Regions from separate parts of the Homo sapiens genome. Here region 1 is linked to region 2. A link means that fine-mapping ties the variant in region 2 to the expression of a gene that starts in the linked region. Tissue or cell type: monocytes after LPS. Region 2 holds a variant in brackets; the other region holds the start of a gene. All regions are shown on one strand. Distances are between the middles of the regions.

What was found. PIP is the estimated chance that this variant, and not a neighbour inherited with it, causes the effect.
Region 1: PPP2R3A starts here. The variant in region 2 is fine-mapped to the expression of PPP2R3A in monocytes after LPS (Fairfax 2014, PIP 0.95).

What each region holds. Positions count from the first base shown.
Region 1 is chr3:135,963,018-135,968,121 of GRCh38, forward strand. It overlaps PPP2R3A (protein phosphatase 2 regulatory subunit B''alpha), which reads left to right and starts at 2,711. Exons shown (of 14, transcript NM_002718.5): 1 at 2,711-2,832. RefSeq lists an enhancer at 2,285-3,103 and silencers at 2,548-2,777, 2,908-3,187.
Region 2 is chr3:135,741,013-135,746,216 of GRCh38, forward strand. No RefSeq gene overlaps it. Among named protein-coding and RNA genes, the nearest start is that of PPP2R3A, 220 kb to the right of the region's middle. The variant ATGGAT/A (reference allele first, on the strand shown) is at 2,906.

The DNA.
Region 1 (5,104 bases), 220 kb after region 2:
GTTAGAGGCACATGTTAAAGAACATCACAGCAATCAGCAAAATGCAGAATGTGGGAAACTCCTTATAACAATCTATTTCTTCAATATAAAAGTACAAGGAAAGAAAAAGGTGTAAGACATTTTAACCAAATGCATTGTGAGGAACTTGTTTGGATCATGACTGGAAGAAGTAAACTACATGAAACATTTATGAGAAAATTGGGAAATTTTGAACACTGTCTAGATGTTAATAAATTATTACTTTAAAAGACAATTTAATGATTTTGTGGTTGTTTTTAAAAATAGACCTTATCATTTAGAGATGCATAGTGAAATATTTATGGATGAAATAATAATGCTCCATGTGATTTGCCTTAAAATAATCCAAGGAGGGAAAGAAAAGGTGAGGGTACAGATGGAACAAATTGGTCATGGGATAATTGTTGAAGCCAAGTAATGGGTGCATAGTAGTTAATTATATTATTCTGTCTCTGTTTTCAATATTTGATATTTTTATACTAAAAAAAATTTCAGATGTTTTCTTGTCTAATAAGACTTGCCCTACTCTCTTCCTATACCTCATAGAATTAATTGTGCTCATGACTGCTCCCCTACCGTCATGTAATTTAAACATTTATTTTCAAATCTTTCTCCCTTACTTGGCCATAAGCTCCTTGAGAACAAAGATTGACAGAGTTTCACTCTGATCACCCAGGCTGGAGTGCAATGGAGAGATCTCGGCTCACTGCAACCTCCACCTCCCGGGTTCAAGTGATTCTCCCGCCTCAGCCTTCTGAGTAGCTGGGATTACAGACGCGTGCCACCACGCCTGGCTAATTTTTGTATTTTTAGTAGAGATGGGTTTTCACCATGTTTACCAGGCTGGTCTCAAACTCCTGGCCTCAGGTGATCCACCCTCCTTGGCCTCCCAAAGTGCTGGGATTTCAAGCGTGAGCCACCACGCCCAGCCCCTGTATCTTCTTTATTTTATATCATTTGTATTCCTACCACCTAGTACAGTCTGAGTACTCAATACATTGTGGTGAATTGGCAACTCTCTAGCCCCAATTCACCATGGTCCTCATGACAGAGAGACTAACTCTATTGTATTGAATCAAATTTCCAGTCACGTATTGTGTCCTTTATACATTCAAGTTATAATGTGTATAAATGCATGGCAAAAGGGCCAAAGGAGCCCTAATGTAAAAACATTGGCAATAAAACTGTTGAGACAAACCAAGAATCCAGGTTGCCAGGGTCAGCAGTTTTAACATTGTTTTATGGTACATTGTGTACTTTTCCTTCTTACTGATATGCATTGCACTGTGACCTTTGCAGAGTCCTATCCTGCCCTGCATTTTTCACAGAGTTGCTCTCAGTCTCAAATAAGATACCATATGCATGTGAAAGGGCTTTTGAAATGGAAAAGCAGTAGAAAGTTGAAAGTAAAATGGTCTCTTTCTCTCTAGGGCATCAAGGCATCTCACAGAGCACACTTTAGCTACTGGGAGGATTGACCTTGGGTGAAATTTCAGTATGTAAAGCTTGTTTGGGGTTATCTTACATAATTTTTTCTTTCCTTGTGCTATACACACACACACACATATATGTGCATATATGTACAATGCACATATATACACACACACATATGGCACCTAGTATATGCTTGGTGCTATGCTAGGTGCTGGGGAGACAGTGAGAACAACCCAGGTGCCCAGGACCTGTCCTCACAGCCCACCTAATCCTTTTAAGTCTTTACATACCTCCCATCCCCCACCCCCATGCTCCTTACTCATGGTATTCAACCCAACTGATTGACTTATTTATTGTTATTTATATGCTTATATATTTATAGATTTATCATTTTATCAAGATTTTTACGAAGATACTCAATTGGAGGTTCCTAATTCTGGAGAAATTTCCATTTTACAAATATATTCTTGGAGAGGGCATGATTATGGACCTGTCACATTTGAGTACTGTGGCAGTTAGAAGGAGGGCAATTTTGGGAGGCCCTTCCAGGCTATGTCCTTCCAGCTATTAATGAGGTTCTGTTTCAGAGCAGACCATATTACACGGTGTTATTAATAAATCTGGCGAGTGGTTATAAGGGTGTGTGTATCGGAATAATCCATTAAGCTGTACATTGGTTTTATATGGCTGTCTATATTTGTGTTTTATTTAACAGTAACAGTTAACAATAACAGTTAAAAATAAGTATCACTTCTTTTAAAATTCACACAACTTCTTGGGCTGAGTGAAATGTGGCGCAGGTGCAGGACTGTGGGAAGACAGGAGCGCCAGGGAATGTCTGGCCAGCAGCGCGCTGCCCTCAAGGGGCCTCCTTGAAGGCCCCTTGAAGAGGGCAACACAACTAATGACGATAACAATAACAACGATGACAATATTGACGATGACAATAACAGTAATAAATCCGAGCAAGAGACTCGAATCTGTCAAACAGCAGCGACCACCACGAATCGCATCCCCGCGGCGCCGCCATACAGGAGACTGCCCTCGCCGAGGCCACAGCGGCTCTCGCGGCGCCCCTGGAGGCCCCCTTCCTGCCTTGGCCAGAGGGGCGGGGCGTAGGCTGGGGGCGGGGCCGGAGAGTGGGCGGGGCCTGGCGCGTGGGCGGGGCTCCGGGCGGGCCGGCCGCCGAGGGTGGGGCCGAGGAGGAGGAGGAGGAGGAGGAGAAGGAGGTAGGGGCCTGCGGGTGGCTGGGCGGGGCGCGCTCGGGCCTCCGCTCTTCACGCGCCGCATTCGTAGCCCGAGAGTCCGCGCCGCGGGGAGGCTTGGAGGCAAGCGCTGCCCGCGAGCTGAGCCGCCGGAGGAGGAGCCGCGGGCAACGAGGTAGGCAAAGGAACACTGGCCGCACGGCCTGGAGCCTTCAGCTCCCTCGTCCCGGCCCGAGGGGGTGGCGAGGCTCGGGGCGGCGCGCGGAGGCCGGGGCGGGCGGGGCCGGGACCTGGGGGCGGGGACCGGCCTGGCCAGAGGGGCCACACGGAGCTGATTGGGCTGTGGAAGTCGGAATTCCAGTCGGTGCGGTGCGGTGCGGTGCGTTGCCTCGGCGCGGCCGGCCGGTCCCGGGACACGGCACCAGGGAGGTGTGGAAATTGCCTGCCCCAGGGGCGCCCGCGGAGGAGGGTAGGCGGGGGCGGCCTGGGCCCTCCCACTTTTCAGGGCTCCTGGGCCAGTTCGCCCGCACAGCCCTCGGGAACTTGTTAACAGGAAAGCCTGGCAGAGAAACAAATGCCAGCGTTTTGGAAGAACTGAGAGTCACGTCGTTAGGCGCTGAGGCTTTCTTTTCCTTCCCCGCCCCCTGCCCAACCTCGGCCCGACTTGGCCAAAGAAGGATGTGTCACCAGCTCCGGGCCGCGGACGGGATTCCCGGCCCGCCAGGAGCCGGGGTACCTGAAACAAAGGTAAACGGAGGCCGGGCGGCCCCTGGTCCTGCACCGCGGCCGCGCTGGAGCGCCTCGGTGGGTCTCTCCCGCGCCGACCTGGCCGCCGCCGCCGCGGAGGGGCGTTCTCCTGGGGGACCTCTCGATGGAAACCAGCTGGCCGGGCTTGGAGTTGATGTTGCATCCGAACTCTGTTGTGCTCCCGTTATTCCCAGTCCTCCCACTCTGGTAAAGCTTAAGGAAATTTTATCCAGTCTTGGTGGTCAGCAAATGTAGGGGAAGACAAATTATTGTTTGTAAATTATAAGGTATTTTCTAATTAGGAAATGGCCTGAAAACATTAAATTCTTAACACGTAAGCAAAAAAAGAGTAATTCCTTCCAACATCTGAGGAAGTATTCCTCCTCAAATCTTCATTTATGTACAAAACATCCCCCACACCTTTGGTGCCAGGCATTTTTCTTTGTTCTTCCTTAGTCTCAGGCCTTAGTTTCTTGTAAACAGAACCCAGCGCCTAGACCCTAAGAATTGCCATACTAGGTCAGAGCATGGGCGTCCAGTTCAGTAGGCAGCCGGCTTGTGTTGTAGTAAAACTGTTGTTTTTTTTTCTTGGTGGTATGTTAAAAATTATCTCAGTTTCTTTCAGTAGTCCATGAAAGCCTTTTAAAAATTTTCTAAGCCACTGCTAATTTACACACACAATTTATTTACATTTATTGCATCCAAATGGCCCTTTTATCACCTCTGGCAGAAGAACTTAATGGCATGAGATACTTGTGGAAAAAAACTTAGATCTTTTATACAATCTAGGAGCTCAGAAATCTAGGAGATTTCTAGGAGAACGGGGAAACAGATCAAAAAGGTTTTTAAAAAACAAAGCTTTGGGAAAGTGTTACTGGGGCCAATCTGGCTGTTGAGTTCAAAAATAGCTTTATGCACTGACAACCTGAACATTGAGCAGTTAAAGATTTATTTGTACTCATAAGTATTTGCATATTTTAAAATGTAGCTTAACATTCTGGAGAGTGAAGGGCCTATCTGACTTTATCTTGGGCTGAATTAATTTGGCCTTAATGTTCAGCTGAAACCAGCTACTCTGAGAGAATGGAAGTTTTGTTTCAGCGAGAAAGGAAAAAAGGAAATGAATAATTTTGGAGTATAGGGTACTTGGGGGCACCTGTTCAAATCATAACTTTGCTTTTAAACTCTTCAGAGACTCCTCCTTGCTCCTGACAAACATAGTCCCCACTGATCTGGCCCCTGTTACCTTTCAAACACACAGCTGAAGCTTCACCTCTGCCCTGAAGCTTTGCTTGACACCCCCCATCCCCCAAAAAGAAAACAGATATTTAAAAATCACCACCCTCAGAAGTGCAATTGACAGCTCTTTTGAGTGTTATCGTCCTCTGAGTCAGAGTTTCTCATTTGTAGTTCTGTTGACATTTTAGGCCAGGTAATTTCTAGTTGTGGAGGGCTATCATGTGCAGCGTAGGATGTTTAGCAGCATTTCTAACCTTTACTGAGGAATAGATACCAGTAGCACTCCACACACACAGTTGTGAACATCAAAAATGCTTACAGACATCGCAAATGTCCCCCAGGAGGACCAAAATCACCCTTAGTTAAGAACCACTGTTGTGAGCAGACTGCTGCCTTAACACTAGTGACGCAGCATTGTCCTCATTTGCTTAGGTGTTTACTATACTAAGCTTGAGGGCGGG
Region 2 (5,204 bases):
CCAGTGCCAATACCAACAATTGTGTGATATTGAAGGTGTGACTTCCTCTCTCTGGGCCTCACATTGCCCATCAGAGGAATTAGAGGGCTGGATTGGGTCATGGCTAAGATTCCTTCCAGGTCTCTCCAGAGCAGGGGTCAGCCCTAACTGCCTTGTCTCTTACACCCATACCCCAGTACTGCCTCCCTCCTAAATCTTTTTTTAAATCCCATTTACTCCACACTATACCCACCCTCAATGCCCTGGCTCTGAACCCGGTCAGAGCTTCATTATCTCCTGCTAGACTAGTACCATGACCTCCTACTGGACCCACAGAATTGCTCTCTTCCCATTCATTCTGCAGAGCAGCAGTTCTGAAAGTGTGGCCCCAGGCCAGCAGCATCCGTATCACCTGGGAGCTTGTTAGAAACGCAAATTATTGGGCCCCACCCCAAATCAAACATTTTGTGAGAGGGCCCAAAGATCTGATTCTCCCAGATCCTTAGTCTGGACTCCTCCGGGCCTCTCCAGGTCCCCATCTCACCACTCCCTTCCTTGGAAAATATTTACTCTCCAGTAACCCCAAACTTGTTATTTCCAAATACACCATGCTGTGTCATACCTCTGGCCCCACATAAGTCATTCCTTCTAGCTGGAACAGTCCTATGACCAATCTTCACTTTGTAGGGCTAAGTGCTTCTCAACCCTGTCAACTGAATAACTTTTGACATCCTTCCAAAGGCACCCCTACAGATAATAGCCCTCCAAAAAGACTTCCCTGGCTTCTCCCACCTCTAAAACTATGTACTCCTATGATTCCTTGTGTATGCCTCCAAAATAGCACATGCCACTTTGCATAGTAGGCAGGATTCTGTGATGTCCCAAAGATTTTCCATACACCCCCTCCCAGTGTACATAATTTCATAATTATGCGCTGCATAATTTCTGGGCCAATGATAATGATAGAGGCAGGAGGCAGAGAAATTCTAGGCAGACTGGGGACAGGTCTCCAGTGAAACCCCACCTTTGAGCCGAAAAGCCTGAAACCCACGGCCCAAAGTGAGAACTTCTATCCCTGTTTGCCGGCTCTCTCCCAGTTGGTTCTTTCTGAATAATGTCTTTTTACCAGTCAAATGTTCCCTTTTCCAAAACTACCTATGGCCCACCTCGCCCCACATGCTGTGCCTATAAAGACCCCAGAATCAGTCAGTAAAGGAGAGAGAAGCAGCTTGACTGGAGAGAGGTGACTTGACTTCAGAGGGACAACTGGACTTCAGAGGAGAGACAGCTTAACTTCAGAGAGATTGCTTAACTACAGGGAAGAGCTGACTAGAGACAGCTGGACTTTAGGGGAAGATTATCTGCCCGTCTTGTGCCCTCTCCAGCTCCCCTCTCTGCTGAGAGCCATTTCCCATTGCTTAATAAAATTATCCACCTTCACCATCCTTCAAGTGTCTGGGTGACCTCATTCTTCTTGGATGCCAGACAATCAGGACCTACCAAGTGTGGGTACCCAAAAAAGGCTGTCACACTGGCCCTCTGCCCTCACTAATGGAGGGCAGCCACTCCATGCAACAAGGCAAGGGGCCCACTGAGCTGATAACACACCACTGTCCACAGACAGCAGAGCTAAGAGAGCATTGTAACACATCCCCTGGGGCTTCGGGGGTTGCAGGCTCCCCCAGCGGGGCACCGACATCCCTTGAGGCCCACATAGAACCTGCTCCTGCTGGCGCCTTAAAGCACCCAATCAGATCCCGCATTCACTCACTCACATGCTCCCTCCTGCAAGAAGTTGAGCCCAGTAAGCCAAGTAAACAGGGCACCCCCGTTGCAAGTCTGACAAAGGGGTCAAGAAAAATCCTTCATCAATTATAATGGATTATAGTCCTGTAATTACATTATGTTATATAGTATATGCTATTTGGTTGACCTTAAAATAGGAAGATTAATCAGGTGGTCTTGACCTAATCACAAGAGTGCTTTAAAAACAGTGCTTTCAAAACAGTACTTTCTCCAGCTGGTTGCAAAAATAAAAGTCAGAGAGATTCAACATGAGGAAGATTCTCAGCTGCTGAGATGGAGGGACCCTTGGGCAAAGATCTAAGAGCAGCCTCAAGGGGCTGAGAACTGTCTCTGGCTGACAGCTAACAAGGAAATGGGGACTTTAGTCCTATGACCTTGAGGAACTGGATTCTGCCAACAAGGATGAGCTTGGAAGTAGATTATTCCACAGCCTCCAAACAAGAAGTCAGTCCAGCCAATACCTCCATTTCAGCCTTCTGATGCCCTGAACTTGATATACCATAATGGGTTTCTGACCTACAGAAATGTGAGCTAATAAATCAGTATTGTTTTAAGCCACTAAATTTGTGGTGACTTTTTGCACAGCAACGGAAAACTAATACACCTTATATTGTAATTCTCTATTTGCATAGCAACTCCCTCACTGACTGAGCTACTTAAAGATACTGCTGGCTGGGCATGGTGGCTCACACCTGTAATCCCAGCACTTTGGGAGGCCAAGGTGGGCCGATCACCTGAGGTCAGGAGTTCGAGACCAGCCTGGCCAACGTGGTGAAACCCTGTCTCTACTAATAATATAAAAATTAGCCGGGCATGGTTGCACACACCTGTAATCCAGCTACTTGGGAGGCTGAGGCAGGAGAATCCACTTGAACCACGAGGCGGAGGTTGCAGTGAGCCAAGATCACGCCATTGCACTCCAGCCTGGGTGACAAGAGGGAAACTCAGTCTCAAAATAAAAATAAATAAATAAATAAATAGAGACCGCTTCATTAATTCTTGCATCACCAGCAACTTTCTGGGGCACGCCCAGAGGAGGTTCATAGTAAATGCTTACTGGGTGAATAGATAGATAGACAGGTGGATAGATGGATGGATGGATGGATGGATGGATGGATGG[ATGGAT/A]TGGATGGATGGATGGATGGATGAATCATGGAGCATGTGATACCATTGTTCCAGCAGTTGCTTTAAATATGGGGGGAAATGTAACATAAAAAGGGGATAGAGTATATAAATAAACAATAAAAACCAGGATGAGACAGTGATTTTTTTGTCCCATCATTGATTTTTGCAGCATAGAGGACTTTTGCTGGTTAACACTGAGTGTCAACTTGATTGGATTGAAGGATACAAAGTAGTGATCCTAGGTGTGTCTGTGAGGGTGTTGCCAAAGGAGATTAACATTCGAATCAGTGGGTGGGAAAGGCAGACCCACCCTTAATCTGGGTGGGCACAATCTAATCAGCTGCCAGAGTGGCTACAATATAAGCAGGCAGAAAAATGTGAAAAGAGAGACTGGCCTAGCCTCCCAGCCTGCACCTTTCTCCCGTGCCGGATGCTTCCTGTCCTCGAACATCAGACTCCAAGTTCTTCAGTTTTGGAGCTTTGACTGGCTCTCCTTGCTCCTCAGCCTGCAGACGGACTATTGTGGGATATTGTGATCATATGAGTTAGTACTTAATAAACTCCTCTTTATATATATGACTATTCCACCAGTTCTGTCCCTCTAGAGAACCCTGACTAATACAGGCCTCTTTATCTGTTAGGAGTTTGTCCTGCATTTATCTCTTACAGCTCAACATCTTATAGCATTAAGCTAAAGACACGTGCCCTTGTCAAGCAAGTGAGACCTGTTGCATATCACCAGGAGCGGCAGTATCAAAATGTCAACACACTGCATGGTTTGTAGATGTCAAGATTACCAAGAAAGACACAACTCCCAGAGGCACTGGTTGGAACAGCATCTTAGAGAAAAGACAGAGCAAGGTCAGCTTCAATAGTGACCATTGGTCTCCCATGGCCAGTAAGCCAGCCCTGGAGCTGATGCAGGGAGATTGTCTGCATGCACTCCTCTTGTATTAAAGGCAAAGGACTGTGTTGTGAACAGATATAGCAGTGGGATTGCCAGGTGTGGTGCCACATGATGCATATACTTAAGCAAAACAAAAAAGTTAATATCAAATCCAGAACAGGGAAAGATACTCCTAAACAGGGCAATCAGTCTAGCATAGGCTGTGACGGCTTTTTATCGCTATATAAGAAAATGTTCCAGGTCTGACGACACACTCATATGCAACCATGCAAGGATCAATGAGGCTGCATGTGACTGCCTTTTCCAGCCCCGATATGGACATCTATTATTGCTGTATCTAACTCCTCCTTCTCTTTGAGTCAATGTTGCCCTGTGTGTAATGCTGGTAGGGTTCAGTACCCAGCCTCTTACCTCAGAAGTCCAAAGGTTGGGGGTTCTGCCTGTATGTATTCCCTGGAAATTCAGACAGATAGACCCCTTATCCAGAAGCTAGAGTGAGTGGTATGAAGACTCTGGGATAGTCAGGTTTATTCCTGGCAGCCATAATGGTATCTAATTCCTGGTGTCTAATGACAGGTCAAGCGCTACCCTAGAGAAGCAAAGGATGCTTCCTGGCCCAGTTGTCCTAAGAGGGTTCTTAACTCAAGCTCTCAATTTTTGTCCATATTTCGTACTGATTCTTCAGCATCTCATTGAATCACTGAAACCTCAATAGATTTCTTTTCTGCTTAAAATACAAAGAGTTGGTTTCTGTTGTTTGCAACCAAGAACCCTGACTGATACATACTCTGATCATACTGAACTGACAGCCAAGTGTTTTTCCTACTTCTAAAAGTCTCCAGAGACTCTATAAGCGCCCTCAGTTACCTGTTGTACCAGTCAAGGTTCTTAGGTGTGGACAAAAGAACACTCCCTAGCTGATTTAAGAAGAAAATGAAATTATTAAAAAGTGTTGCTAGTTCTCTGGAGTGTCTCCGGGAAGCCCTACAGCCAGGAACAGTGGATCAATCACAGTATCCTCCAGATTTTTTTCATGGGGTCCCCATCAGCATCCCCACTGACACAGAAACCACAGGTCCCACCCACAGCACTGAGCACTGTGTGTTTCCACAATCAACTCTGTGATTGCTGCATCTAGATGCTAAATATCTATGTCCCTTCTCTCACCAGAATAAATTCCTCTGGACACCTGCTTCCTAGCATCACTGGCTTCCTAACTGAAGCCAGACACAGGTGCCTCTGGTCAGGAACTTAGGCTTGCATTCTATACAAGGGAAGCTTGGAAAGCCCATTTCTGGCTTTCTACTTGAGGCACAGACTCAGTAAATGAGAAATTCCCCAAACTTAGAAAGGGTGTACAAGAGTGCTGGGCACCCAAGTGGCTTGA